Linked DNA regions of Homo sapiens. The protein of the gene in region 1 purifies or fractionates together with the protein of each later gene. This does not show direct contact. Each region holds a gene or a part of one and is shown in the gene's direction. Other genes may lie near its edges. The genes, in order: SLC30A4, PDS5A, PDS5B and CIP2A.

Region 1 (7,025 bases):
GCTGGGACCATAGGTGCTCACCACCATGTCCAGCTAATTTTTAATGTGTTTTTTAGAGATAGAGTCTTGATCCTCTTGTAGTTCATGAGCTTGATAATTAGGTGTTCACATACATGTGTGAGACGTGCCACCCTGGAACCTTGTTACAACGTTGGCACATTACCCATTTGACATGAAGGGAAGGGAAAAACCAAGAGAGACGGAGTCTCACTATGTTGCCTAGGCTGATCTCAAACTCATGGGCTCAAGTGATCCTTCCGTCTCAGCCTCCCAAAGTGTTGGAGGATTACAGGCATGAGCCACCACACCTTACCTGTTACTGACTTTTGAGTGTACTTTTTTCTATCAAGAAATTAGTCTGTGATCACATACGTGACAAATATTTTTTCTCATTTTGTCATTTTCTACCTTGTGCATGGTCTGTAAATATACATAATTTGACCCTGGAGAGAGAGGAGTGGAGGGTAGGGAGAGGTAAGGGTAAATTAGTGGAGGATCCATATCAGTCAAGCTGCTAACCACTTTTTTTTTCTGTAAGTGCTAAACACATTTTAAATAAGAAAAATGATTAGCCAGGTGTGGTGGCATGTGCCTATAGTACCAGCTACTTGGAGGCTGAGATGGGAGGATCACTTGAGCCTGGGAGATCAAGGCTGCAGTGAACCATGCATGATCAGGCCACTACATTCCAGCCTGGGTGACAGAGTGAGACCCTGTCTCAAAAAAATAAATAAGAAAAATGACGTGACAGAAACAATAGAGGGCTTTTATCTCCTTAGAGGAAAGAATATAAAAAAGACTATATAATATTTAGTTGGTATGAAGTGTAGTAACCATGCTGAAAATGTATTTGTTATATGTGTTTTTCCCTCTAGAGGTTTTGTCAGCTATGATTAGTGTGCTGTTGGTGTATATACTTATGGGATTCCTCTTATATGAAGCTGTGCAAAGAACTATCCATATGAACTATGAAATAAATGGAGATATAATGCTCATCACCGCAGCTGTTGGAGTTGCAGTTAATGTAATGTAAGCTCTATTTTTTTCACATTAATATTTTCAAGTACTGTGAACTCAGAGACTATTGCATATGCATTCAGTAATATTCAGTGATATTTTGATATTTTAAAAATGATATAACTCATTAACTTTTCTGATAAATGAAACACTATGGACGTTATAAATTCCTCATTAGTTTGCCCAGGTATATTGGAGATTGAGTCAAAATCATGAATTTAAGTAGGACAAAGTTTTTTGTTCTTGTTTAACTTTTAGAATACTTTTGTGTTAACTAGATTTTTTTTCTTAAGCTATCAATTTTTTTCCCTTAAAACTTTTTAGGGAAGAAAGTTTTGAAAGTTTAAGTTAGGCCACATACAGTGGTTCACACCTATAGTCCCAACAATTTGGGAGGCCAAGGTGGGAAGATCACTTGCGCTCTAGAGTTCAAGACAGCCTGGCCAACATAGTGAGACCTCATCTCTTCTAAAAATAAAAATTAGCCAGGCACGGTGGCTCGTGCCTATGGTCCCAGCCACTTGGGAGGCTAAAGTGGGAAGGTCACTTGAGCACAGGCAATCAAGACTGCATTGAGCTATGATTGGGCCACTGCACTCCAGCCTGGGCAACAGAGCAAAACCCTGTCTTAAAAACAAACAAACAAAAAATAATAAAGTTGAAGTTAACAGATTTAATCATTTAGACCAGAGTCAGCAATTTTTTTTCTGTAAAAGGCTAGATAGTAAATATTTTAAGCTTTGAGATCTATATATTCTCTTTCAAAGCTACTCAACACTTGTTATAAAACAAAAGCAGCCACACTTAGCATGTAAACAAATGAACATGGCTGTGTTCCAATAAAACTTTATGTACAAAAAAAAAATCAGTGAGCCAAATATGATCTACCAGCCACAGTTTACCAATCCCTGCCCTAGTGGCTTCTATTTGTACTTAGAATGAAATGAATTTTTTTCTAAATTTTATTATTATTATACTTTAAGTTTTAGGGTACATGTGCACAACGTGCAGGTTTGTTACATATGTATACATGTGCCATGTTGGTGTGCTGTACCCATTAACTCGTCATTTAGCATTAGGTATATCTCCTAATGCTATCCCTCCCCCCTCCCCCCACCCCACAACAGTCCCTGAATGTAATCAAATTTTTACTGCAGCCTTGTTAGTAAGACTCTGTGTACCTCTACCACTCATCTCCTAGCACTTTTGCTCACTTTATTCTGGCCCACAGTGGCTGCTTTCTTTTTTCAAGTACACAGAGCACATTTTCATGTTGGGGCCTTTGCTCTGCTATTCTTCCGCCTAGAACACTCTTCCACCACTTGCTCTCTGACCTCCTTCAGGTATCTGCTTAGAGAAAATCTGAGAGGCCTTCCCTTACCACTCTGCCCATCATCCTCCATCCCCTTACAATGCTTTATGTTTCTCCAAAGCATTTCACATTGCCTGGCTATACCTTATGTACTTATTTGTTGGCTTCTCTGCCTTCTCTACTAGAACATAAGCTCCATGGGGGTAGGGATATGTCTATCTTACCACTGTTTTGACCCAAGTACCTAGAACAGTACTGATAAATAATAGTTGCTCCAAATTTATTAAATAAATGAGTTCCATGTTACCTCATTAGTGTCTGACTAGTGACAAATGTTTTTGTCAATATTGGGAAAAATAATAATGTTTTCTTTTATTTTTAACAGAATGGGGTTTCTGTTGAACCAGTCTGGTCACCGTCACTCCCATTCCCACTCCCTGCCTTCAAATTCCCCTACCAGAGGTTCTGGGTGTGAACGTAACCATGGGCAGGATAGCCTGGCAGTGAGAGCTGCATTTGTACATGCTTTGGGAGATTTGGTACAGAGTGTTGGTGTGCTAATAGCTGCATACATCATACGATTCAAGGTAATATGATTGGTAATTTTTCTATTTTAAAATGTACTTAATTTCAACATGAAAACTAAGGCTGATTGTCATATCAGTATACTGGACACCAGTGCCAGTTCTATTCATTTTACATTGATGTAAGTTTACTTGACAATCATTATAGTTCTTTTGTTAGCAGTAAACAAAATGATATCACGTCACAGGGTAACTTATCTGTATTTGGCTTTTGTAGTGCCTTCACTGGATAAATCAATTTTCTTATTTATTTATTTATTTATTTATTTTTGAGACAGAGTCTCACTTTCTCGCCCAGGCTGGAATGCAGTGGCACAATCTTGGCTTACTGCAGCCTCCGCCTCCCAGGCTCAAGTGATTGTCATGCCCCAGCCTCCCAAGTAGCTGGGATTACAGGTACACACCACCATGCCCAGCTAATTTTTGTATTTTTAGTAGAGACAAGGTTTCGCCATGTTGGCCAGGCTGGTCTCGAATTCCTGGCCTCAAGTGATCCACCCACCTCAGCCTCCCATAGTGCTGAGATTACGGGCATGAGCCACCATGATTGCCCAGATAACTCAATTTTAAAACTCGTGATTGAATTACTAGGTAGTAAAATGTGCACTGGACTGAAAATCCAGAGATCTGAGTGGGTTCTAGTCTTGGCTCTGCCATTAATGCTTTGACCTTGAAAGCAAATACCTGAACTCTAAACTTGAGTTCCCTCTTCTTTATTACAAGGGGCTTAAACTAGTGGCTGCTAAAACTTTTTCCAGAGCTGAGTACAGTGGCTGTGCCTATAATCCCAGCTGAGGCTGGAGGATCAGTTGAGCCCAGGAGTTCAAGAGCAACCTGGGCAACACACACACACACACACACACACACACACACACACACACACTTTTTTCCAGCTTTGACACACACACACACACACACACACACACACACACTTACTTCTTTCCAGCTCTGATATTCTAGAACATTTAGAGATGGCACAAGGAACAATAGAACAAGTGATTACATTTCTGGAAATAGGTCCCATGAGGCAAGTAACGTAAACTGTCTAGGATAGAGTGAAGATGCTTTTCAATTACAATATCCAAGTTTTAAAGGTATTCTGTAATTCTGCTAAAGAAAATCAAGCAAGAAGGGACATATTCCTTGCTTTGCTTTGCAGTCTGTTTTATATTTGTCTATTTAATCATAAATTTTGATCTATTACCCTTTAGCCAGAATACAAGATTGCTGACCCCATCTGTACATACGTATTTTCATTACTTGTGGCTTTTACAACATTTCGAATCATATGGGATACAGTAGTTATAATACTAGAAGGTAAGATCTCACTATATCCTCATTATGAGTTTATTACTTCCCTAAAGCAGATTGGGAGTCAGGGGACATTCTGAATAGGAATTACATCTTTTGCTTTTTACTAATACCTTTTAGGCTATATAACAGTACCTTACATGTATGTAACATGTAAGAATTAATGAACTCTCCCATCTTTTACCCATTTGACACTTATAATAGCTAAGCAAAGTAGGTAAGGCAGATAATGTGGTAAATTATCCCCATTTACAAATAAGAAAATTGAGGTTCAGAGGGATAACATACTTTGGTTAAGGTCATGTTGCTAATAAACTGTGGCACTAGGACAAAAATGCAATTCTAGATTATGTATTAATTCCTTAATTCCCACTTAACTTGTGACTTTGTTGTATTTACTGCATTCTTCCCTTACTGATATTATGTGTAAGCATGAAAATAAAAGTTCTTAACAATAGGCTTATTATCATTATATGTTCTTTTCTTTTCTTTTTTCCTTTTTTTTTTCTTAGTTTATCTGTTAATGAAGTATTCTGGTTTGATTGGCATTCCTTTTTAGTGAGAATGAATATGTTTTTAAAGTATGTATTACCCTCTTGTATATATCTTACATTTTTAATAAAAATATATGTGTACATGGTTTATCTTGAAGTATTAATATTTTAAAGTATTTGTTTAAAGTGAATTTAGCAAAGCCATTTGTTTTCTTTGATAAATGTCATCGGTAATGTAAAAGTTCCTTTATTTCCAAAATAAATTTTACTTAGAAATTATATATTCCTAATAGGTGTGCCAAGCCATTTGAATGTAGACTATATCAAAGAAGCCTTGATGAAAATAGAAGATGTATATTCAGTCGAAGATTTAAATATCTGGTCTCTCACTTCAGGAAAATCTACTGCCATAGTTCACATACAGCTAAGTATGTTGCTGGTAGTAAATGTGGGCCTGGGGTTGGTGGACTTCTGCCTTTGAAACTAAACATCCCTGCTTATAATTATGTAGGAAGACTTTTCTGCTGAAAAGATTTGTTTTAAGACAAAAGCCTTTGTCTTTAAAAAACAAAGGCTTTTGTTAACAGCCTTAAACAAAAGGCTCTTTAAAGGGTAAGTTGCAGGTCAGTATTGATACCAGAACAATAATTTTCTATCTCTTTGAGATATTACAAACTGATTTTAACCTTCAGATTAAAGGTATTAAGAATATTTCCTGACTGGCATGGTGGCTCGCACCTGTAATCCTAGCACTTTGGAAGGCTGAGGCGGGTGGATCACCTGAGGTCAGGAGTTTGAGACCAGCCTGGCCAACATGGTGAAACCCCGTCTCTACTAAAAATACAAAAATTAGCTAGGCGTGGTGGTGCATGCCTGTAATCCCAGCTACTTGGGAGGCTGAGGCAGGAGAATTGCCTGAACTCATGAAGCGGAGGTTGCAGTGAGCCGAGATTGCGCCACTGCAGTCTAGTCTGGGTGACAGAGCAAGACTCCATCTCGGAAAAAAAAAGAATATTTCCCGGCCTGGCGCGTTGACTCACGCCTGTAATCCCAACACTTTGGGAGGCCAAGGTGGGTGGATCACCTGAGGTCAGGAGTTCAAGAACAGCCTGGCCAACATGATGAAACCCCATCTCTACTAAAAAATACAAAAATTAGCCAGTCGTGGTGACACGTGCCTGTAATCCCAGCTACTCGGGAGGCTGAGGCAGGAGAATTGCTTGCACTCAGGACACAGAGGCTACAGTAAGCCAAGATGGCGCCATTGTACTCCAGCCTGGGCAACAAGAGCGAAACTCCATCTTAAAAAAAAAAAAAAAAGAAAGAATATTTCCCATGCTCTTTTCTACATAGGAAAAGCTAGATTCTTACATTTTTATTTCTTCAAGTCATTTCACAGATTGATGCTATTGATGCTTTTTAAATCAAAATAATACATGCATGAGGTTTACTTTTAATGTGCACAAGATATTTTAATGACAGGTTTGTAACTGATGTCTGGTATTTTTTCTCTACCTGAGAGTAGACTGGAGAGGTTAGAATAATGAGAAGCCATTAAGGATGTGTAAATTGACCTACTTATCTAACAGAATAGCTTAGAGAGGGTAGAAATCAGACTAATAAAAATATATTCCCAGTATATTTCAGTTGTTTTTTTCCCTGTATCTTATTCAAGATGTAACTGTACAATGGATAGTAATGATATTTTCTTGACATTGCAGTTCCTGGAAGTTCATCTAAATGGGAGGAAGTACAGTCCAAAGCAAACCATTTATTATTGAACACATTTGGCATGTATAGATGTACTATTCAGCTTCAGAGTTACAGGCAAGAAGTGGACAGAACTTGTGCAAATTGTCAGAGTTCTAGTCCCTAATTTTATGTATTTTGGGAACTCCTGCCTTATTTATCCTGCAGTCACAGACTTGAGAGCAATAAATGCAAACCTAAATGAGAAAATGGAATCCCTGACAGCTGTGTCCGTATCAAGCATCAGTCTCTCAAACAGTTGCCCCAGCCTGACAGTGCTAGTCTCTGTTTAATGGTAAAAGGAGACTTTGCCATAATTTTCAGATGAAGATGTTTCCCAAACACTGTTTACAGAATGAGATGTGACTCTACAGATACCTCATAGAAGACAATCCAAGATCATACTTCATTAACTTGACAGAGTACGTGTCTTAAAGGAAGCATCAAGAATTCAATATTTGCATTTAAAAATACTTTTTAAGGCCATTTTATATTAAGCCAGTGCTGGAAAACTGAATTTTTTTTATTATGTATAATAATCTCGACACCCAGCTTCTG
Region 2 (7,652 bases), on another chromosome or scaffold:
AGGTTGGCCAGGCTGGTCTCAAACTCCTGACCTGAGGTTATCTGCCTGCCTCGGCCCCCCAAAGTGCTGGGAGTACAGGCGTGAGCCACCGTGCTCAGGTCTTTTTTTTTTTTTTAGACGGAGTCTTTCTCTGTCGCCCAGGCTGGAGTGCAGTGGTGCAATTTCGGCTCACTGCAACCCCTGCTTCCCAGAGTCAGGCAATTCTGATGCCTCAGCCTCCCAAGTAGCTAGGACTACAGGTGTGCGCCACCCCACCAGGCTAATTTTTGCATATATATATATATGCAAATATATATATATATATTAGTAGAGATGAGGTTTTGCCATGTTGGTCAGGAGCTCTAGAATTTGTATATAGAAGGAGCTGTAGTGAAATTGGGGGTTAGGGGTTTGTCCTCAAATTGCATTGGACGCAATTTTGTACATAGATTATATAACTGAATGTATGTGTGAGGGGGACACTGATTGAAATTATGTGGGAGGTAGAATAAAGACTCACAAAGCCACCCCTTTGTGCAATTATTAACCACATAAAACTCTTTGATTTTTTTATTTTATTTTATTAAAAAAAATTATGTAGAGCTTAGTATATGCGAGTTACTATTCTAGGCATTTTACAAATATTAACTTATGGCCAGGCGCAGGGGCTCACACCTGTAATCTTAGCACTTTGGGAGGCCAAGGCGGGCGGATCACCTGAGGTCGGGAGTTCAAGAGCAGCCTGGCCAACATGGTGAAATCCCATCACACTAAAAATACAAAAAATTGCTGGGCATGGTGGTGCGTGCCTGTAATCACAGCTACTAGGGAAGCTGAGGCAAGAGAATCACTTGAACCTGGGAGGCAGAGGTTGCAGTGAGCCGAGACTGCAACACTGCACTCCAGCCTGGGCGACAGAAAAAAAAATTAAGTTATGTATTCCTCATAATGATCATGTGAGGAAGATACTATCATTATCCTTGTTTTACAGATGAAGAAAATGAGGCACAGAAGAATTAAGTGGTTTGACCAACATTGCCTAACTCAGGACATACATCATATCACCTCTTTGCTTAAAACAGTCCATTAGTTCCCCACCTCAATCAGAGGATAGCCACAGTCTTACCAGAGGTCTAAAAGGCTACATGTGATCTGTACTCTCTCTCACTCCAGGGAGTCTCACTCTGTCGCCCAGGCTGGAGTGCAGTGGTGCTTTCTCAGCTCGCTGCAACCTCCATCTCCCCGGTTCAAACGATTCTCCTGCCTCAGCCTTCTTAGTAGCTGGGATTACAGACATGTGCCAGTGCGCCTGCCTAATTTTTGTATTTTTAGTGGAGACAGGGTTTCACCATGTTGGTCAGGCTGGTCTGGAACTCCTGACCTCAGGTGATCCACCCACCTCGGCTTCCCAAAGTGCTGGGATTACAGTCCTGAGCCACCGTGCCTGAGCCACTGAGTCTAATTTTTTGTCTTTTTAATAGAGATGGGGTTTCACCATGCTGGCCAGGCTGGTCTGAAACTCGTGACCTCAAATAGTCTGCCTGCCTCCCCCTCCCAAAGTGCTGGGATTACAGGTGCGAGCCACCGTGCCCAACTCTTCCCTACTTTATTTTCATATACATGTATTATTGTTATTTTGGTCTATTTCTCCCCAAACAAATTAAGGTCCACCAGGAGGGCAGGCCTTCATTTGTGAAACAATTATTTAAAGAGGCCTATAATATAAGGCATTGTTTTGGGCACTGAGCGGGGAAGAAAAGCTTGGTGGAGGTTGGGTGCAGTGGCTCATGCCTGTAATTCCAGCACTTTGGGAGCCCAAGGTGGGTGGATCACCTAAGGTCAAGAGTTCGAGACCAGGCTGGCCAACATGGTAAAACCCTGTCTCTACTAAAAGTACAAAAATTAGCCAGGCGTGGTGGCGCATGCCTGTAGTCCCAGATCTTGGGAGGCTGACGCAGGAGATCTGCTTGAACCCAGGAGGCGTAGGTTGCAGTGCGCCCAGATTGTACCACTGCACTCCAGCCTGGGCAACAGAGCAAGACTTCGTCTCGAAAAAATAAAATAGGCCAGGCGCAGGGGCTCACACCTGTAATCCCAGCACTTTGGGAGGCCGAGGCGGGCAAATCACGAGGTCAGGAATTCGAGATCAGCCTGGCCAATATGGTGAAACTCCATCTCTACTAAAAATATAAAAATAAGCTGGGCGTGGTGGTGTACGCCTGTAGTCCCAGCTACTTGGGAGACTGAGGCAGATGAATCGCTTGAACCTGGGAGGCAGAGGTGAAGTGAACCGAGATCGCACCACTGCACTCAAGCCTGGTGATAGAGTGAGACTCCATGTTAAAAAAAAAAAAAAAGAAATCAACCAGTAAGGCCAGGCACGGTGGCTCAAGCCTGTAATCCCAGCACTTTGGGAGGGTGAGGCGGGCAGATTACCTGAGGTCAGGAGTTTGAGACCAGCCTGACCAACATGGTGAAACCCTGTCTCTACTAAAAATAACAAAAATTAGCCGGGCATAGTGGCGGGCGCCTGTAATCCCAGCTACTTGGGAGGGTGAGGCAGGAGAATTGCTTGAACCCAGAAGTCAGAGGTTGTAGTGAGCCAAGATCACACCACCACACTCCAGCCTGGGCGACAGAGGGAGACTCTGTCTCAAAAAAAAATTAGCCCGGTATGGTGGCACACACCTGTAGTCCCAACTACTTGGGGGCCTGAGGCACAAAAGTCGCTTGAACCTGGGAGGCGGATGCTGTAGTGAGCCGAGATCATGCCACTGCACTGCAGTCTGGGCGACAAAGTGAGACTTCATCTCAAAAAATAATAAAATAATATAAAAAATAAATAAAATAAAATATATGTACATATACAAAACTCCATTTAATAATGGGCAAGCTACTGAGGAGGATGAAAGATAAAATCATTGTTGTTTAATTAAATGTAACACACAAAGAAATATCAAATTTGGCCGGGCGCGGTGGCTCATGCCTGTAATCCCAGCACTCTGGGAGGCCGAGGCGGGCGGATCACTAGCTCAGGAGATCGAGACCATCCTGGCTAACATGGTGAAACCCCGTCTCTACTAAAAATACAAAAAAAAAAAATTAGCCGGGCGTGGTGGCGGGCGCCTGTAGTCCCAGCTACTCGGAAGACTGAGGCAGGAGAATGGCGTGAACCCGGGAGGCAGAGCTTGCAGTGAGCCGATATCACGCCACTGCACTCCAGCCTGGGTGACAGAGTAAGATTCCGTCTCAAAAGAAAAAAATAAATATCAAAAGTGACAGGGAGAGCCTAAAAAGAGAGCAGCTTTTGGTCCACTTAATAGTTTGGATGAGGACACTTTTAAATGGATTCTGCCTGGTACTGTAAATGCCCAAGAACAAAGCATTGACTTTTGGGCAGAGTTCTAGCAAATCAGCAACTGTGGAGTGTCAGATTCGCAATGACTGCTCTTGTGTAATACGTCAAAAACAAGTCAGTGAGCTGAAATGCAGTACCTTTACTATTTTTAAGTTGACGTTAAAGGATGTGGGAAAAAAATAGACCAATGGGTACCCATCAAGAATAATTTGAATAAACAATCGAATATCATTTTAAACTATGGTAGTGGTCAGTTTCAAGAGCTGAATGTGATTTCATATTATCGTATCCTTTTTTCAACTTTCTCTTCGGAAATTTTGTGTATGCTCTTGATTTTTTTTAAATAGGTAAGTGTATGTTCTTGCGTTAATTTGTTTCAATTACATACATTAAATTGCTCAAACACTGCTGCGTGCACTGTTTTTACCTGATAGTGGTTTTCCTTTGGATGACAGAAAACGTTAATGCTTGGTAGGTTTAAAACATTTTTAAAAAATGAGCTCTTCCTTATTTACAAGAATCACCCACCCAATTAATAAATGCTTATTTCTGGGTTCCACTCTCAGAGATTTTTATGTTTATGTATATTTTTATATTTTTTAGTGTTTTATTTTATATGTTATATTTTTATATGTTTTATGTTCATATATATTTTTACGTTAAAAAAACATATATTTTTATGTTTTTTAATCTTTGGAGTTGGAAACCTACGTTTTCAGCCAGTACCCAAAGTGATTGTGAGGCCTGGTGGCCCAAAGACCATACCTTGAGAACGACTCGACCCAATGCTATTTTCATGTTTTGCAGCTTTCAAAATATTAACTTCAGAAATCTAAGGAGGGTGGGCAACTCGGGTGGCTGTCAGAAGACCCGAGAGTGAGCCGCTCACGCTGCGCCCCATTGCACAACTTTCCTTGACTTTGCAGATCTCTCCCTGAGGAGGAAATCAGTTCATTTTCACCGAGCAATTAACTACCTCCCAACCAGTTTCGTCTATGTCCCTCAGGATGACCCCCAAAAGTCACCAGCTCATCGCCGCTGCGAAAGATAAAGCACTGTTTGCCCTGCGTGCCCTCGCAAGGCCGCGGGAACCTGGGCTCGCTTCCCGCCACCCGGGCTCCTCCTCCTCTCGCCCTCTCCGGTCGGGTCCTCCGGGAGGCGCCCCGCGCGGCAGGTATTGGCGCCAACCGGGTGGCGGCGCTGTCCGCCCTGCGCGCGGCCGCCTCGGGCCCGAGGGAGGCGGATGCACGGCCGGCGGAGGAAGGGGAGGGAGCGAGGAGCGCGCGCTGCTCTCGCGTGCTCTCGCGCCGCTCGCGTGACCGGCCGGTGTGTGCGCGAGGCCCCGGCTCCCGGGGCACGGACGGCCGGGCGCGCGCCTCTGCGAGGGGCGTCCGGGTCCGAGTCGGCGGTCCGGGCCGGCGCGAGGTGCGTGCGGGCGGGCCGCGGGGGTCCCGGACGGACACAAGCGCACACACTCCCGGAGGAGCCTTCGAGGCTGCTCTTCCTCGGCCAGACGGAGAGCGGCACTGTCTCCCCGCCCAGCGCTCACTCGCCCCGCGTCTCCCCCCGCGGCGGCTGCTCCTCCTCGGCACCGCCAGCCCCAGCGCCGCTCCCGGGCGGGCGGGCGGCGGCGGCGGCGGCGGCGGGACCCGCGGAGCCGCTTTGTGTGCAGCCCGACTAGGGGCGGCGGCGCAACCACCTGACAGAGGCCCGGGCGCTCGATGCACCTTCCGCCCGCATGAGGAGGAGGTAAAGGCGGCGGCGGCTCGGCTCCCGCCCTAGGCTGCTGGAGGGAGGGGACGGAAGGGGAGACTGGAGGGGGGGGCCGCGGGTCCGAGGCCCGGTGGGGCCGCCCGAGGGTGCCGGGAAGGCCTCGGCGGTGCCGGAGGCGCCAAGCGGCCGGGGGCCAGAGAAGCAGCTGGGGTCCCTCAGCCGAAGTTGAAGGAACAAAATGTGAAGTGCGGAGGCGCGTCAGCCGCTTCCTGGCGTGGGGCTGAGGGTGGAGGGCGGCTTGTTTTCCCCTCCCGCGGGGGTGAGGGAGCGGAACAGGGGAGGGGTGGCAGCGCGGCGGGGACTACCCCGGGTCCGAGGCTCGGCTGGGCAAGGGCGTTTTGTTCCCGGCAGCCGCCGCTGCGCGTGGGTCCGCTGGGTCCCTAGTTTTGCGGCCTAAGCCGAGCCCTATAGGCCTCGGGTCTGGTTTCCCGGAGGGGACTGGCCGGGCGGGACTGGGTGCTTCCCCACCGCCGAGCGGGGGCCTTGGGGTCCTTGCCGGCCTCCCGGGGCCGCCAAACTTCGGACCCTGGTGCTCGGGGGTGGATTTCATTGTGAAAGGCGGAATGGGAAACTCCTGGCGCTGTTCGGCGGCCACGGCGGCTGGTGCGGAGGAGCCCCGTGAGCCTGGGGCTGGCAGGGCCGGGTTGGCGGGGCCGGCGGGGTTCGATCCCTGGGAAAGAGCGGGTGGCGAGGCCGCTGCCGGGTCCCCGGCCTCTGGGGAGACAGGGCCTTTTCCAGATTAGAGAGATTTGAAATGAAAAAAGAGGTTACAAAGTCGCCCCTTTCCCGCTGAACTTTGGTTTTCTGACCGATAGAGGCCGGTAGAGGACTGTGAACCAAAAGTTGTCCCCCAGGATGGACTTCACCGCGCAGCCCAAGCCTGCCACTGCCCTCTGTGGCGTCGTGAGTGCCGACGGGAAGATCGCTTACCCTCCGGGGGTAAAAGAGATCACCGACAAGATCACCACGGACGAGATGATCAAACGCCTGAAGGTAAGTGTCTGGACGGATTTTGATGTCTTTGGTAGAAGGCGCTTTCTCCTGTGATACTGCTACCCTGCTCAGTCTGGCCTTTAAAGTTCCAAGTTTTTTAGATCTCTTACCCCCTCTGAAAGGTACTGTTGTATCTCAGATAACATCTTTGAGTGAGTTTTGTAGGGATATAACCATTGTGGGAAATTTAAAAGGAGTGTGATTTTTCAAAAACTTACTGGTTTTCAAGCATAAGAATTTGTGTTTTTAGAGTTTTTTCTGGAGGTATTTAATGAGAATACTGTTCAGAGTGGCTTGCAAACTTAGGTGTAGGCAGTAATTTGCCTAAGAAGTTTACTATTTTCAGCTTCTGAAGGGGATTGATTAAAGCGCAAAGTCCTTTTTAAAAATTTGCATAATTTTCTATATCCAGAAGCTTAAATATGTATATATGGTGGTTAAACTTTGACAGAAGGTACAGACTTTTCATAATTCAGGCTTAAAGTAAGATGATTTAAGTCTATACGTTCAAAGGAGTTTAAGAGTATTATGGCCCTTTTTATGAGGTGTCAGCTAATTTTGTTTAAGCATGGCAGTCCTAAGGTTAAGGTTTTAAATTTCAACCTCATGTTTGTTAGTTTTTTTGGTTTCTGTTCCACTGACATAGATTGTGGCCAGAATCTTAACAAATAAGTAATATTCTTCTTGTAGGAACAGCTTGAAGCAGTGGTTCTGAGTCAGGGCAACTTTGACCTCCAGGAGATGTTTGGCAATGCTGGAGACATTTTGGTTGTCACAATTGGTGCTAGATTGGAGTAGGGGAAGACCAGAGGCAGTGAGTCCGGCTAGGAAACTGTAAACAGTAGTCTAGGTGAAAGACGTTGAAATCTTCAGGTAGGGCTATGGCATTGGTAATAGTGACTAGGAAATGATTTAACAACTTTTCAGAGTTAGAATCAATCAGAATTGGTGGGAGGTGAGGGAAGCAACATTGTTGACAATGTTTCCACCTTGGGCCACTTGGCCAAATGTATTTTAGGGAATGAGCTTGGCCTCTTGCTCTTGGAGCCCAGTAAATGTACCTAATGTTGCATTTTAATGAGTACAGTATTTAAAATATTCCTGTGGTTTAGTTTTCAGACTCTTAATTTGGTTCTGCAATTTGTTGCCTTTTTGGAAGGAATAAGACAACAGTTCCTTTCATTAAAACAAATCTGTGTGCGGCGGCGGGATCTCAGCTCACTGCAACCTCCACTTCCCAGGTTCAAGCTATTCTGCCTCAGCCTCCCAAGTAGCTGGGACTACCAGCGTGTGCCACCACACCCGGCTAAATTTTTTTTTTTTTTTTTTTTTTGAGACGGAGTCTTGCTCTGTCACCTAGGCTGGAGTGCAGTGGCGCGTCTCGGCCCACTGCAACCTCCACCTCCCGGGTTCAAGCAATTCTGCCTCAGCCTCTCTAGTAGCTGGGATTACAGGTGCCTGCCACCACGCCCAGCTAATTTTTGTATTTTTAGTAGAGATGGGATTTCACTATGTTGGTCACTTTGGTCTCGATCTCCTGACTTCGAAT
Region 3 (7,025 bases), on another chromosome or scaffold:
GTTATTTGATTGTAATAACAATTACAAATGTCTGTATTAAAAGGCTTGATAGTTCTGAAATGGATCACAGTGAAAATGAAGATTACACAATGTCTTCACCTTTGCCGGGGAAAAAAAGTGACAAGAGAGACGACTCTGATCTTGTAAGGGTGAGATATTTGCATTGATTTTATAATAATATTAATGATAATTTTACTTAGTAATGTTTACACTGAAACCAGTTAACATGACTATCAAATTTACATTTTATTTTATTTTATTTTAGTGGTTTTAACCACAAACCTGAGTTTATAATTATCCTCTATGTAATTTAAGTATATAGAATCTGTGCTTCTTATCAATGTGATAAGTAATCTCAATTGTTCAGATTTTTGGTATTAGACTTGCCAGTTGCATACTCAACTGCTTGGTTTTTGTATTGTTTTCCTCATTTGCTTGTGGTTTTGTTGTTGTTGTTGTTTTTGTTAACATAGGATATTTAGACTTAGCCTTAGAGAAGGGGAATGGAATGAGGACCCTTAAAACTTCTTTCATTTAATTTATTTCTTGAGCCTTTTACTAAATAAGCTGCTGTTAAAGGTAGAAAATGCTATAGTTCTCGTCAAGTCCTTGTTCAGTTTTTAAATCTTAATAGAAATGATAAAATGATAACTTGTATGATAGACAGTTTGTGTTGTTTTAAGACAAATTTGTTAAGTTTTAGCATAGACACAAAATACAGTTATGTCTTCTAACACAACTCAATGGACTTAACTGGGTTTGTTTTGACTTTACAGTTCAGCTTCAGATCATTTCCTTAATAACTAATTAGGCTATCAGAATCAATTTTCTTATCTGTATGTAAATTATGGATACTTAGCTGGTAAGCTTTATCAGAGTAAGTGACTTAGCCAAAATGAATTGCTGCTGCTGTTTCATTGTTACGACTTTTGATTATGGTTATCATAATAATAAAAGTTAAAATGTTCGAATCTACGTGATTAAGAGAGGTGAGAGGTTAACCAAGAAATAATTACTTTTACTTTCTCTAAAATATTACTGCCCATCTTCCACGAGTCCAGCATTACACATGCCAAGAAGTTTATTTTCATGTTTCTCCAATAACTTATTTTGGCAGAGTGTTTATTTCCATTTAGAAAGAATTATTCTTTTTTGTTTTGTTTTGTTTTGTTTTTTGAGACACAGTCTCACTTTGTCGCCCAGGCTGGAGTGCAGTGGCACGATCTGGGCTCACTGCAACCTCCGCTTCCCGGGTTCAGGTGATTCTCTTGCATCACCCTCCTGGGTAACTGGGACCACAGGCATGTGCCAGCATGCGTAGCCAATTTTTGTATTTTTTAAAGGCGGGGTTTCACCATGTTGGCCAGGCTGGTCTCAAACGCCTGATGTCAGGTGATCTGCCTGCCTTGGCCTCCCAAAGTGCTGGGATTACAGGCTTGAGCCATACTGCCCGCTGTGAAAGAATTATTCTAAAATTTTATTGAATTCTAACTATGTATACTGTAAGTTACGATGTTTATTGGCTGTTTAAAATTTTCACATGAGCAAAATTAAGAATTGATCACTTAGCTTGGAAACAATCTTGTTATCTGGATTTACAGAAGAAAATCCTTGAATTGGAAAAGGTATTATGTCTTCTTAGTTCTCACTTACTGCAGAAATTCCTTTATTATTAATGAGAGCTGGTCACCACGTTGAAAATGCTTTAAGCAGAGAGCTCATGATGTATTTCATTTGTTGGAAAAGTCAACTAGGTCACTCATACCCACACCTATAGTGTACTACACTTATACCTTGGTGTTCCCATCCCCCAAAAGTTGGGAAACATGGTTTTTATTAATTCTTAATATTCTGTTATCCTATAAATTTTGCATCTGCTTTTACCTTTTGGGATAGTACAGAACAAAGTCTACTCTATTTTTCATAGAACTGTTTTGAATTTTTGAGCTCTTGAGACCTATTAGTATGATTGTAATGGAGGCCTTTTGCTATTTGTTGTGGCATGGATAATGTGTAACGTTAGGTCCAGTTTTAGAGGTGCTAGAAGAATCTTATTAATAAGCTAGTTTTGACTGAAGTGCCCTCAGAGAGATGAGTATTATGAGACACAAGTTGAATTTAAAGACCAGTAGATTATAATGAAAGAGCACGGTCTCATTTGCTTGTTACCAGCTTCTCATTGAAATTTCACAGCAAAGGAATTATTTTCCATATACGTTTGTATTTAAATATTTAGCTTTATAAATAAAATATTTTCCTGTCTTTTGCTTCTAACCTCGGTTTTATACTCCCTCTGTTCTTAAAACAGTGCAATGCAAAATGAAAAAGAAATAAGTAGTGGTGCTTTAGGAAACTAGATTAGTATTCTCAAGAAAGTAGACATTGGGTTTTCTTTTTACCACCAACCTTTTCCAGAGCTTAAAGGAAATCATCTACCTTTTTAGATCTTTGGACATCAAAAAGAATTATAGTAATTAAAATAAGAAGTGACATTTTAAATTTAGTTCTAATTTAACATTTCTTTTACCTTCTTATCTTTGAGTAAAAACAGTTAATTTTTAATTTGTGCACAAAACTCTAAATAAATAAAACAAACTAAATCCAGTCATGTATAGATCTTCCCCTCTCCTTAGAATGTAAGGATAGCTTAATGTTACCAAATCTTTTACTATGATAGTATATTAAATAAACCAAAGGGAAAACCAAAAACAAAATAATTTCAGATCATGCCAAGAGGACATAAATAAAACTTAAGATCCGTTCTTGACAAATAGGAACTTTTAGTAAACTAGTACCAGAAGGATACATCTTTAATGTGCTAAAAGTTTTGTCTATTTTAAATCAGTAGTCAATGCCATTCTTCCTAAAGGCAAAATACTTGAAGCATTCTTTTTAAAAATCAGGAACAAAACAAGCAACCTGCTGTCACCACTGTTTTTAAAAATTGCTCTAGAATGTTTGACCAATTGTTATTTTTGTAATCTTAGAAAAATAAAAGAAGCAATTGAAAATCTATCCCTACCTATGTATATATTTATGTTTGTAACTAACATTACTCTGATAATTTTGGTTTGTATCAGATGTACATTTAGGGGAAAAGGGATTATTTTCTTCATCACAAGAACCAGTGCAACAACAAACATAGATTGACTGATTGACAGATTCATAGATTTAAATATAACCTTTAAAAGAAATAGGGAGTACCTATATGTAGAAAATCTCAAAACTGAGATAGGGAGGACCTATATGTAGAAAATCTCAAAACTGGAAGACTTGAAGAGAGAGAAGACAGGCCATGTTCTTGTATAGGAGAAAGGAATAAAAAAGGATGAAAGTTTTTTTCAACTGAATATATAATTGCAAAATTCCAGCATGGTTTTGTTTCAAGTCTATGTGGAGGAATAAATAAATATAAAAGGAGGAGAAATAAAGGTAGGTTCAGCCCTACCAGATACATAATTATACTTAGTAAAATATTGTGCTTCTGTTATGATAGCCCAGAAATATTATTCTTGTTCAAAACATATAAAATAAAGGAAGCACTACAAATCATTGATTCTGAAATGGTTGGATGTGTCTTTGGGAGTGGAAAATCCAGTTTAGAATCTCATCTCACATTCTGTTCTAAAACAATACACAATAATGTCTTAGTCAGCTCAAGCTGCCATTATAAAATACCAAATACCACAGACTGGGTAGCTTAAACAACAGAACTATATTTTCTTACAGTTCTGGAGGCTGGAAGTACAAGATCAAGGTGCCAGCAGATTTGGTTCCTGATGAGGGCTGTCTTCCTGGGTTACAGATGCCACCTTCTCCTGTGTCCTCACATGAGAGGTGTGGGGTGGGAGGAAGAAGAAAGGCACCCAAGCTCACTGATGTTTCCTCTTATAAGGACACTAATCTCATCATGAGGGTGCCACCTCATGACCTCATCTCAACGAAATACCTCCCAAAGGCCCCATCTCCAAATACTGTCACATTGGGATTAGAGCTTGAACATACAATTTTTTTCTTTGGTGGTGGGGGCCACAATTCAGTCCAAAGCAAGTAAGAAATAACACTTAAAGGACAGGTGCAATGACACCTGTAATCCCAGCACTTTGGGAGGCCGAGGCAGGCGGATCACCTGAGTTTAGGAGTTTGAAACCAGCCTGGCCAACACGGCAAAACCCCATCTCTGCTAAAAATACAAAAATTAGCCACGCATGGTGGCACATGCCTCTAGTCCCAGCTACTCGGGAGGCTGAGGCAAGAGAATCGCTTGAACCCGGGAGGCAGAGGTTGCAGTGAGCCAAGATTGACCCACTGCACTCCAGCCTGGGTGACAGAGCGAGACTCTGTCTCAAAAAAAAAAAAAAGAAAAAAAAAAAAAGCTGGGTGCAGTGGCTCATGCCTGTAATCCCAGCACTTTGGGAGGCCGAGGCGGGCGGATCACAAGGTCAGGAGATTGAGACCATCCTGGCTAACACGGTGAAACCCCGTCTCTACTAAAAAAATACAAAAAAAAAAAAAAAAAAAAAAATTAGCCAGGCGTGGTTGCAGACACCTGTAGTCCCAGCTACTCGGGAGAAGGCTGAGACAGGAGAATGGCGTGAACCTGGGAGGCGGAGCTTGCAGTGAGCAGAGATGGTGCCACTGCACTCCAGCCTGGGTGACAGAGTGAGACTCCATCTCAAAAATAATAAAAGATAATATTAATAATAAAGAAATAACACTTAAAAATAAGCATAGAGGCATACACAAAAGCATAGAGGAATATAGAGAAAACCCACTAACACCGCAGTAGTCAAAGTTGACAAAGGACACAATACGAAGGATGTAATTAGGCAGTTCACATACAGGAAGCTCAATTTAAAGTTAGAAAAAGTTACAGATAATTCGATAGTTTTTGTTGTTTTCAGTGATTTTTGAAAATATAAATTGCGCAGACTTTTGGAAATTAACTTTGTATTATAAGTGTTCATACATACAATTTATTCTTGGGTCTTTGGAGAATTTCTTCAGCCTTCACGCTGGTTCACATATAGATTCTCTGAATATAGACTAGGATTTTATTTTAAATGTGAAAGCCACTGGTTTTTTGTTGTTTCTGTTGTTAATCAGTTAGTTATACCTAGAAAGAAGCAGTATTTCTAATTCAGAAGTGTTTCCAAAATTTATAATAAATGATGAATATGTTTACCTTTTGTATCTTGCAACCTCCATTTGTAAAATAATAGTTCTTTTATGATGTTGTAAGCATGTCATATAGTTAATATTTTATGTCTTACGCACTATGTGGTAAAATTAGAATTACTTAAATTGACTATCCAAACAGATACTTTAGTATAGTTGTCATTTAGGACCAAGCACTGAATTTATAATGCTCTTTTTAATGAGATAGCTCTTCACTAAAATTTATAATTTAGTAAGATACTGATCTTGAGAGGTTTCCTTTTAAGACACTCTAGCTGAAAAGTAAGAGTGCAAATGTACCCTTTTATCCCAGATAAGTTTTTAAAATTAAAAACTATAATAAAAGCAAATAAATACAGTTCTGGTGTATTTAAGAGCTGTATATTTTAGGTACATATCTAGGACAACATTAGATAACAGATTTTTTTGTTTCATTCCTCAAAATATGTATACTCACAATTTCATAACCATAAATTGTGATTTTTTTTTTCCCCTAGTCTGAATTGGAGAAGCCTAGAGGCAGGAAAAAAACGCCCGTCACAGAACAGGAGGAGAAATTAGGTATGGATGACTTGACTAAGTTGGTACAGGAACAGAAACCTAAAGGCAGTCAGCGAAGTCGGAAAAGAGGCCATACGGCTTCAGAATCTGATGAACAGCAGTGGCCTGAGGAAAAGAGGCTCAAAGAAGATATATTAGAAAATGAAGATGAACAGAATAGTCCGCCAAAAAAGGGTAAAAGAGGCCGACCACCAAAACCTCTTGGTGGAGGTACACCAAAAGAAGAGCCAACAATGAAAACTTCTAAAAAAGGAAGCAAAAAAAAATCTGGACCTCCAGCACCAGAGGAGGAGGAAGAAGAAGAAAGACAAAGTGGAAATACGGAACAGAAGTCCAAAAGCAAACAGCACCGAGTGTCAAGGAGAGCACAGCAGAGGTAAGCATGTGTAACTCTAAACTGCATCTGTTTCGTTACTATATTATAAATCATAATTTGATGCTATCCACATTTGGGTCTTCCCCAAAGCAGAGCAGAATCTCCTGAATCTAGTGCAATTGAATCCACACAGTCCACACCACAGAAAGGACGAGGAAGACCATCAAAAACGCCATCACCATCACAACCAAAAAAAAATGTGTAAGTTGTAAATATTACATTTCAAACCAATTTCAAATTATTTTGCAAAAGTTCCTAAATTTGTAAACATACATATTGCTGTATTTAAATTCCATATATTTAGCCCCATTACACTAGGTAAGATAAAATTTTTATAAACTTACCTTAGTGATTGATATCTCAATAAACTATCTTGTACATTTTTACAGGTGCAGGCAAATCTTCATAAATGAATACCAAATAGTATATTATTTCCTATACAGACTTTATGATATCTAAAGAAATCATAAGGTATTTTTAAATAATCACCACACATTGACCAGGTTGCCTTGTCATTCCACACTACAATTTTTTTTTTAAATGTTTCTCATTAGCACCTTTTCCTTTAAAAAAAGGAAAATAGGTCTTATGCTTCTGCTTTTATTCTTTGAACTTGTAGTAGGAAAGTAACAGGTACCATTTTTTAAAAATTATATCCATAGAAATTAACACATGTTGGTCTCAAGTGTTTGATATCTTGATTTTGTTTGTTTTCTAACCCAGTTCATTTATCTACATCAACATGTATATAGTTTTAGATGTTCACACAAACACATTTATAAGAGAGGTACAGTAAGAATCTGTACCTCAAATTTTAGTGTCACCAGAGTATCACTGCTGTAATTTGCAGATCTGACAGTGTTTTTTCTCCTTAGTTATGTGAGTGGAAATAGAGTAGCATGTCTTCTAT
Region 4 (7,025 bases), on another chromosome or scaffold:
GAACTTACTGCAGTAATATGAAATTCCCAGCAGATACAAATGGAATCTATACAACTTGATATTATTTATAATGAATGAATTATAATAAAGTGTTCCTGGCTTTTGAAAGATGCATCAAAATAAGTGACTAGTAAAATGCCTCTTAAGTCTCTTCAGAATAATGGTATTCTTTTTTTCCCCCATATTTCTTTCTTTTTTGCTTATTTTAACATGGTTTCATTTGTCTTAACTGGTATGTTGAATTTGTCACAAATTACAAGAAAGAACATTAGTGATATTAAAATAATTTTTCCCTCTCCCCATAGCACATTCTTATATTTTCTGTCTGTTGGACATGTCTTGTATTTTATTAGAGAGTTTAATATTTTATTCATGTTACTGGAAAAGTTCTTATAAAAATAGCACTAAATAACTGGATACAGGTTCTTCACAAAGTCGTAAAAACAGAGAAAGGCTTAGGGTTTTGTCTAGCATTGTAAAATAAAATCCAAAGGGCTGGGGGGAACCAACTTTTTATTCTAGCGACTTTTCTGCTTTTTTAGTGTTTCATATCACATAATAAATACATGCAGGTTATGGTATAGGTTACATTCTTTGATTATACTAGCTTAATTTTAAGTGTTTGATTAAGCATCTGTGATGTCGTTAAGATTTTGTTCTTAATTCTCACCTGAAATGAGAATGCTGATGGTGTGCACACTTAGCAGTTTAGTGTTAATGGCTACCTCTGAGGACCATACCTTTTTAATTGAATACTGTATGTAGCGCGACCTTCATGTTGCTGCAGTTGTATCCATTTCCATTAATTTGATCATAGTGAGATTGTTTTTATCAGATAATGTATTAAGTTAAAAAAATATAACAGTATCCAACTTATTAGAAGTAAAGTCCTAAGTATATGTGACTAATACAGCTTTGCATGACCCAACAGATACCAGCTTATTAGATACTTAGTAAACTTTTAAATTGTAGGTATGTGTTGAGCATATGATATAGATGATAGTGGTAAAGTCTATCTTCTTTTTTTTTTTGAGGCACGGACACTTGCTAGTATGTTGAGAGAAGTTGAGAGAAAAAATGAAGAGCTTAGTGTGTTGCTGAAGGCGCAGCAAGTTGAATCAGAAAGAGCGCAGAGTGATATTGAGCATCTCTTTCAACATAATAGGAAGTTAGAGTCTGTGGCTGAAGAACATGAAATACTGACAAAATCCTACATGGAACTTCTTCAGAGGTAAATAAAGTAAAATCTTCTGTGTAAGGTTAGAACCTAGAATGAACATGCAGCATTTCTTTTCTGAGACCCGAAAATCCTTTTGTAAGCATTTCATATATTCTGATAACACATGAGGTAAGTAATTAGCAAGAAACTTAAGTCATTGTGAAATGAAGTGTTGCTTCCTCAAACTCAGTATCAATGTTGGAAACAAAATACAGGTCTTTCCAGTTGACTTCTTTTATGTATTCATAACAGTCAGCAGTCATTTGGGAGATAAGCTCCACAAGGACAAGTTTGTCTGTTTTGATCACTGACAGATCCCTAGGGCCTGTAGGAGTGCTTGCTGCATAGTTAGGCACTTCATTAATAATTTTTAAATAAACTTAGTTGTCAAATTAGTATTAGGTTGAATGGTCATTTCTGCAGATCAAAAGTAGTTGAATATTGGCAATTTCATATCATTCTGCCTAATAGAATGGAAATTTAGGTGTAAGTGTTTAACTCATCTCTTAATATCCTTGATTATAGTTTACTTCCATGTGTGATTACATCTGTAGAATAAGTTCACATAGGTGAATTGCTAAGTTAAAGGGTATGTATATTTAATATTTTGATAGATATTTCTAAATTTTCCTCCAAAATGTGATACAGATTGAGTGTCCTTTTTGAACACAATGGTAGCACTCAAAAAGTTTAATATTTTGGAGCACTTTTGATTTTAGACTGATTTTGGATTTTCAAATTAGTGTTGCTCAACCTGTACCAATTTGTGTGCCTACTAGCAAAGTTTGATTGGTTTTTCCTCCCTTATAAACTCTTTTATCTTTTTAGGCCAGTTGTAAAACTTCTGAATTACAGGGAAGACCAGGAACAATTATGTATTTTCTACCAACCCATAAAAGTAAATACACTCTGGGGGAACTTGTTTATTGCTTTATATTTTAAGATTGTTCTATGTTGTTAATACAGAGATATAGAAATTTTTAGCTTGGCATGGTACATATGCTTATTTCCCATCAATAATAATGAAGGGTGAGAAATGAATAGTATCTAGAAAATGATGACAAAGTGATTTTTTAACAGGATATTTACCCCAGCAACTTTTTACAAAGTCTGATTGTTTGAGGCACCACTGATAAAGTGTAGTATTAGTGATAAGCCAAGTTGAGAACGTCAGCAGTGAAGAAAATACGTTATAGAACTGAAATGGGTTCCATTTGCTCAATACAGTAAAACCAGGTATCTGCACCAAGGTTTGCAGTGATAGAAAAAAAGGCTTTTACTGCAGGGTGCCAAGTAAGGAGGAGCAGGCAGCCAAATGCTCAAATACTGACCTCCCCAATAGCTTGCAAGCAAGGATTTTTAAAGGCGAGTAAATTTCAGGAAAGTGGAAGTTACAGACAAAAATCATAAATAAATAGTTAAAGGTTATACATTGGTTTAAGTTTAAAGGACAGGATATTGTGAAGCAGGGGCTTACAGGTCATGGGTAGACCCAAAGATTTTTCGATTTGCAGTTGGTTAAGGAAGAGCAGCTTTGTTTAAACATTTGGGGTCAGTAGAAAAATGTTAACTAGCTAGGGAGAGTGACTTTGTTCAAGACCCTGAGAAAGAAACTTAGAACAAAGAACAGTGGTTAAAATTCAGCCTTCATTTTCTCCTTACCTGAGCTCTACTTGTCAATGGATCTGGTCAGTGGGCTTCCTCAATGAGGGTCCGGGTCTCTGAAATACAACTCAGGGACATGTGTTAAGTTGTTTTCTTTAAGTTCTATAAAGAATCAAGTATCACTGGTACTCTTAAGTTTGTTAACTTTGATTTAGGCTACTATTACCTTCCTGTTTAACAAGTTACTTATTTACTTCTAGGGCTATCTAGGTCCCTGGAATTTCCCTTGAGTGAACTCAGGATTTTCCTTTATTTTCCAGCTTGAGGTCCTCAGACCTCCTAAAAAGGGGATACCTGCTTTGTCTCACATAGAGAACCTAAGAGATAGGCAGCGTCCAAGAAAAATACGTGGTTTCTAAGACCTGCTTATGTTCCAGCTAGTGATTTAGGGGCTAGAAGGTGAAATTCCTTGAATGGACAAGTGGATAACATGTAAATGAAGCTGGCTGGGGAAAAGGTCATTTGTAATGGTCAGGACTGTCTAAAGGCACTCAAACTCAGATTGTTAAAATTCCTGTATGGATTAGATACAAAAACTGCTGGCCAAGTTTGGCTACTGGTTTTTTTTGTTTGTTTTGGTTTGGTTTTTGGGTTGCTTTTTAAAAATCTTTGTGCTTAGTGAAATAAAAAAGACATTTTATGCTTATGGTAGTTGAGTATCAAAGTATTACTTTAGAAAGGATTTTTTTCTGTGTTTACCTTGCAGGTAAAATACTTAGGACTATTAGATGCAGAGTTTTAAAGAGACAAATGTAGAACCCTAAACTTATTTATAGCAAATTATGTAATGCAATATCATCTGTAAAATAAGGCTTTATATCCATAAATATGAGATTAATGCCCCACACATTTCTATTTCATAGTAATTTTTACCACATCAGTCAACCAAAACATGTATTTACTGCCTTTTAGAGTAGATGAAATTCTGTTTATGTCCTGCTTGTTCATAACATTCCTTCTCTTCCAGCATATGCAATTTGGTTAGAAGAGATAGTAAAGAAAACACTGTGAGCTTCTTTTCTCCTTCATATGTTTTCCTCCATAATGATGCCAACTCATTTTCTTGTCTTTTCAGAAATGAAAGTACTGAAAAGAAGAATAAAGATTTACAGATCACATGTGATTCTCTGAATAAACAAATTGAGACAGTGAAAAAGTTGAATGAGTCACTCAAGGAACAAAATGAAAAGTAAAATCTCTAGTTCTATATTCTGAATATGTGGGATTTTTCAAAAACAAAATGATTCCCTTTATATAGAACATTGTTTTTTATTGATAAAATTAATAGAATTGTCACTTATTTTAGATATAAGATATGTATTTGGTGGAAGTTACAGGCAATTGCTGTTCTTAGAAATTTTGTTTTAAAGGCTGGGCATGGTAGCTCACGCCTATAATCCCAGCACTTTGGGAGGCTGAGGTGGGTGGAGCGCATGAGGTCAGGAGTTTGAGACCAGCGTGGCCAACATGGCGAAACTCTGTAAATACTGAAAATACAAAAATTAGCTGGGTGTTGTGGCGGGTGCCTGTAATCTCCGCTACCCAGAAGGCTGAGGCAGGAGAATCACTTGAGCCCGGGAGGCAGAGGTTGCAGTGAGCACAAGATCATGCCACTGCACTCCAGCCTGGGTGACAGAACGAGACCTTTTTTTTTTTTTTTTTTTTTTTATATTTTTAGTAGAGACGGGGTTTCACCATGTTAGCCAGGATGGTCTCGATCTCCTGACCTTGTGATCTGCCCGCCTTGGCCTCCCAAAGTGCTTGGTAGGGAGAAAAAGTTACAAATGGTATATGGTTCATTAATGTTTTCTTCTATTTTTTTTAATAACTTCAGAAGTATTGCCCAATTAATAGAGAAAGAAGAACAGAGAAAAGAAGTACAGAATCAGCTAGTAGACAGAGAACATAAGCTAGCAAGTAAGTGGCTTCTTATTTAATACATTTTCTATTTTTAATGTATTTATTTTGGAAGCATGAGTGGTTTTGTTTGCTTTTTTATTTTCTACTTATTGTTTTAAACTTTAAATCATATTTGGAATGGCTTCCCTTTTCTTGACATAATGTTTCACAAAAGCAGTTCGGTTTAATCAAGTTGAAAAAGTGGTACGTTTTTTAAATTTAGGAGCTATAAGAAATTGGCCAGGCACAGTGGCTCACTCCTGTAATCCCAGCACTTTGGGAGTTGGAGATGGGTAGATTGCTTGAGCTCAGGAGTTTGAGACCAGCCTGAGCAACATGGTGAAACCCCATCTCTACAAAAAATACAAAAATTTAGCCAGGTGTGTTAGTGTGCACCTGTAGTTCCAGCTACTCAGGAAGCTACAGTGGGAGAATCTCTTGAACCTGGATGTCAAGGCTGCAGTGAGCTATGTTCACGCCACTGCACTCCAACCTGGGTGACAAAGCAAGACTGTCTCAAAAAAAAAAAAAAAAAAAAAAAAAACAAAAGGAAAGAGATGATTGACCATTTAATTTAATTTAATTTTTTTATTATTTCAACTTTTAGAATCAGGGGGCATGTGTGCAGGTCTGTTACACTGGGTATATTGCATGACACGGATGTTTGGGGTATGGATCTCATCACCCAGGTAGTAAGCATAGTACCAAATAGGTAGCAATAGGTAATTTTCAACCTCCTGCCAACTCTAGTCTGCAGTGTCTATTGGTTCCATCTTTAAGTCTGTGTGTACTCAATGTTTAGTTCCCACTTAGAAGTGAAAACTTGGAGTATTTGGTTTTCTGTTCCTTCGTTAAATCACATAGGATTATGGATTGCCCTTTTCAAAATAAAAAAATGTTGAAGGAACGTAACAGCAGGTGGCAGTATTAGGTAACTTTTAGTTACTAGCTTCTTAATGGTATATTTGAAATGATCCTGAAAAACATTTTTGTTCTCACTTGCCTTAGAGCGCAGGCACCTACCTATATAATTTTTCATAGTTGTAGCTCTCCCTTTTCTAACCCTTACACTTTTGAGAATTGTCCTTTACCTATATAGCATATTATATTTAGAACAGAGGATGGAAGAAAGACATGGAGATTTGGTATTTTCTATAGAATACTGTCATAAGAGAAGTTTCTCTTCCTTGTTCTAGTTATTTCTCTTTTGCTCTTACAGTAGCTACTAGACCATTTCAGAGTAGTCAGTGTAAGACCTCTGAGTATAATACTTGACTTTTTTTTCTTTTAAGATTTGCATCAAAAAACAAAAGTACAAGAAGAAAAGATTAAAACCTTACAAAAGGAAAGGGAAGATAAGGAAGAAACCATTGATATCCTTAGAAAAGAATTAAGCAGAACAGAACAGATAAGAAAAGAGTTGAGCATTAAGGTAAGAATCTGTTCCATTTCTCATTTGCAGTAAAATAAAAAAGTCTGTTGTGAAAAGGGTGAATATGGATAAAGGAATGTACTGTTTCTTCAGCAAATTTTTTAGAAGATATTAGGATCTCAAAGCAGCTTGAGTATCATTTGTTATGAGGTTTTCATAATGTATTTTCTAAAATAGTTAAGCAGTTATTAAACAGATACTTTGTGTCAGCACCTGGTATTTTCAAGTGTGCAAAGAATACAGAAAGGGGTTACCAGTACTTGATGTCATATATAGGTAGCTGTATAATTTTCACTTTAACAAATATTATATAATGTGTTAATAAATATTTTCAACTTACAACTGAAGAAACTGAGTCTGAGGTTACTTACTAAAGTCACACAGCTAATAAGTGAATCAATAGGTATATATTCTGAATCTGAGTCCGGGGTTCTTTCTATATTACCATGGTTGCATAGCTTGAGTGGTAGCTATGAATTGTACTTTCTGGCCCGTTTACTACCAGGAAGATGAGAACAGACTAGGATTAAAGACTGATCTACTACTACTACTGAGTAACAGAAGAGGCATAAAATTTAGTACCACATTTACAGTTTTTCTGGTTCTGCTTTAATGTGATTATCTTATTAGTAATTTTAATATGTAGTGTGTAGTATTTTCTGCAAAATTTCAGCTGCTGGCATTAACTTAAGACAAGTTGAAAGTGTATTCTCAATTTGTATTATATTGTTTAATGATTATTCATTTTAAACTTACCATGTAATTGAATTAACTGAAGTATAATATTTATAGTATGTCTTGAAATGGTTG

What was found.
Region 2: the proteins of SLC30A4 (region 1) and PDS5A purify together in Homo sapiens (affinity purification with mass spectrometry; 5 studies listed by BioGRID and IntAct, with this or other methods). This does not show direct contact.
Region 3: the proteins of SLC30A4 (region 1) and PDS5B purify together in Homo sapiens (affinity purification with mass spectrometry; 5 studies listed by BioGRID and IntAct, with this or other methods). This does not show direct contact.
Region 4: the proteins of SLC30A4 (region 1) and CIP2A purify together in Homo sapiens (affinity purification with mass spectrometry; 4 studies listed by BioGRID and IntAct, with this or other methods). This does not show direct contact.

What each region holds. Positions count from the first base shown.
Region 1 is NC_000015.10:45,484,732-45,491,756, reverse strand, and holds part of SLC30A4 (probable proton-coupled zinc antiporter SLC30A4), read left to right. Parts: intron 1-69; exon of another isoform or gene 70-173; intron 174-875; coding exon 876-1,029; intron 1,030-2,714; coding exon 2,715-2,916; intron 2,917-4,124; coding exon 4,125-4,230; intron 4,231-5,011; coding exon 5,012-5,146; intron 5,147-6,439; coding exon 6,440-6,594; 3' UTR 6,595-7,025. UniProt on the Homo sapiens protein: Probable proton-coupled zinc ion antiporter mediating zinc import from cytoplasm potentially into the endocytic compartment. Controls zinc deposition in milk.
Region 2 is NC_000004.12:39,974,891-39,982,542, reverse strand, and holds the start of PDS5A (sister chromatid cohesion protein PDS5 homolog A), read left to right. Parts: upstream 1-4,631; 5' UTR 4,632-5,086; intron 5,087-5,274; exon of another isoform or gene 5,275-5,295; intron 5,296-5,925; 5' UTR 5,926-5,965; coding exon 5,966-6,103; intron 6,104-7,652. UniProt on the Homo sapiens protein: Probable regulator of sister chromatid cohesion in mitosis which may stabilize cohesin complex association with chromatin. May couple sister chromatid cohesion during mitosis to DNA replication.
Region 3 is NC_000013.11:32,764,446-32,771,470, forward strand, and holds part of PDS5B (sister chromatid cohesion protein PDS5 homolog B), read left to right. Parts: intron 1-43; coding exon 44-149; intron 150-5,675; coding exon 5,676-6,115; intron 6,116-6,205; coding exon of another isoform or gene 6,206-6,208; coding exon 6,209-6,316; intron 6,317-7,025. UniProt on the Homo sapiens protein: Regulator of sister chromatid cohesion in mitosis which may stabilize cohesin complex association with chromatin. May couple sister chromatid cohesion during mitosis to DNA replication.
Region 4 is NC_000003.12:108,551,424-108,558,448, reverse strand, and holds part of CIP2A (protein CIP2A), read left to right. Parts: intron 1-1,034; coding exon 1,035-1,231; intron 1,232-3,959; coding exon 3,960-4,073; intron 4,074-4,718; coding exon 4,719-4,801; intron 4,802-6,075; coding exon 6,076-6,215; intron 6,216-7,025.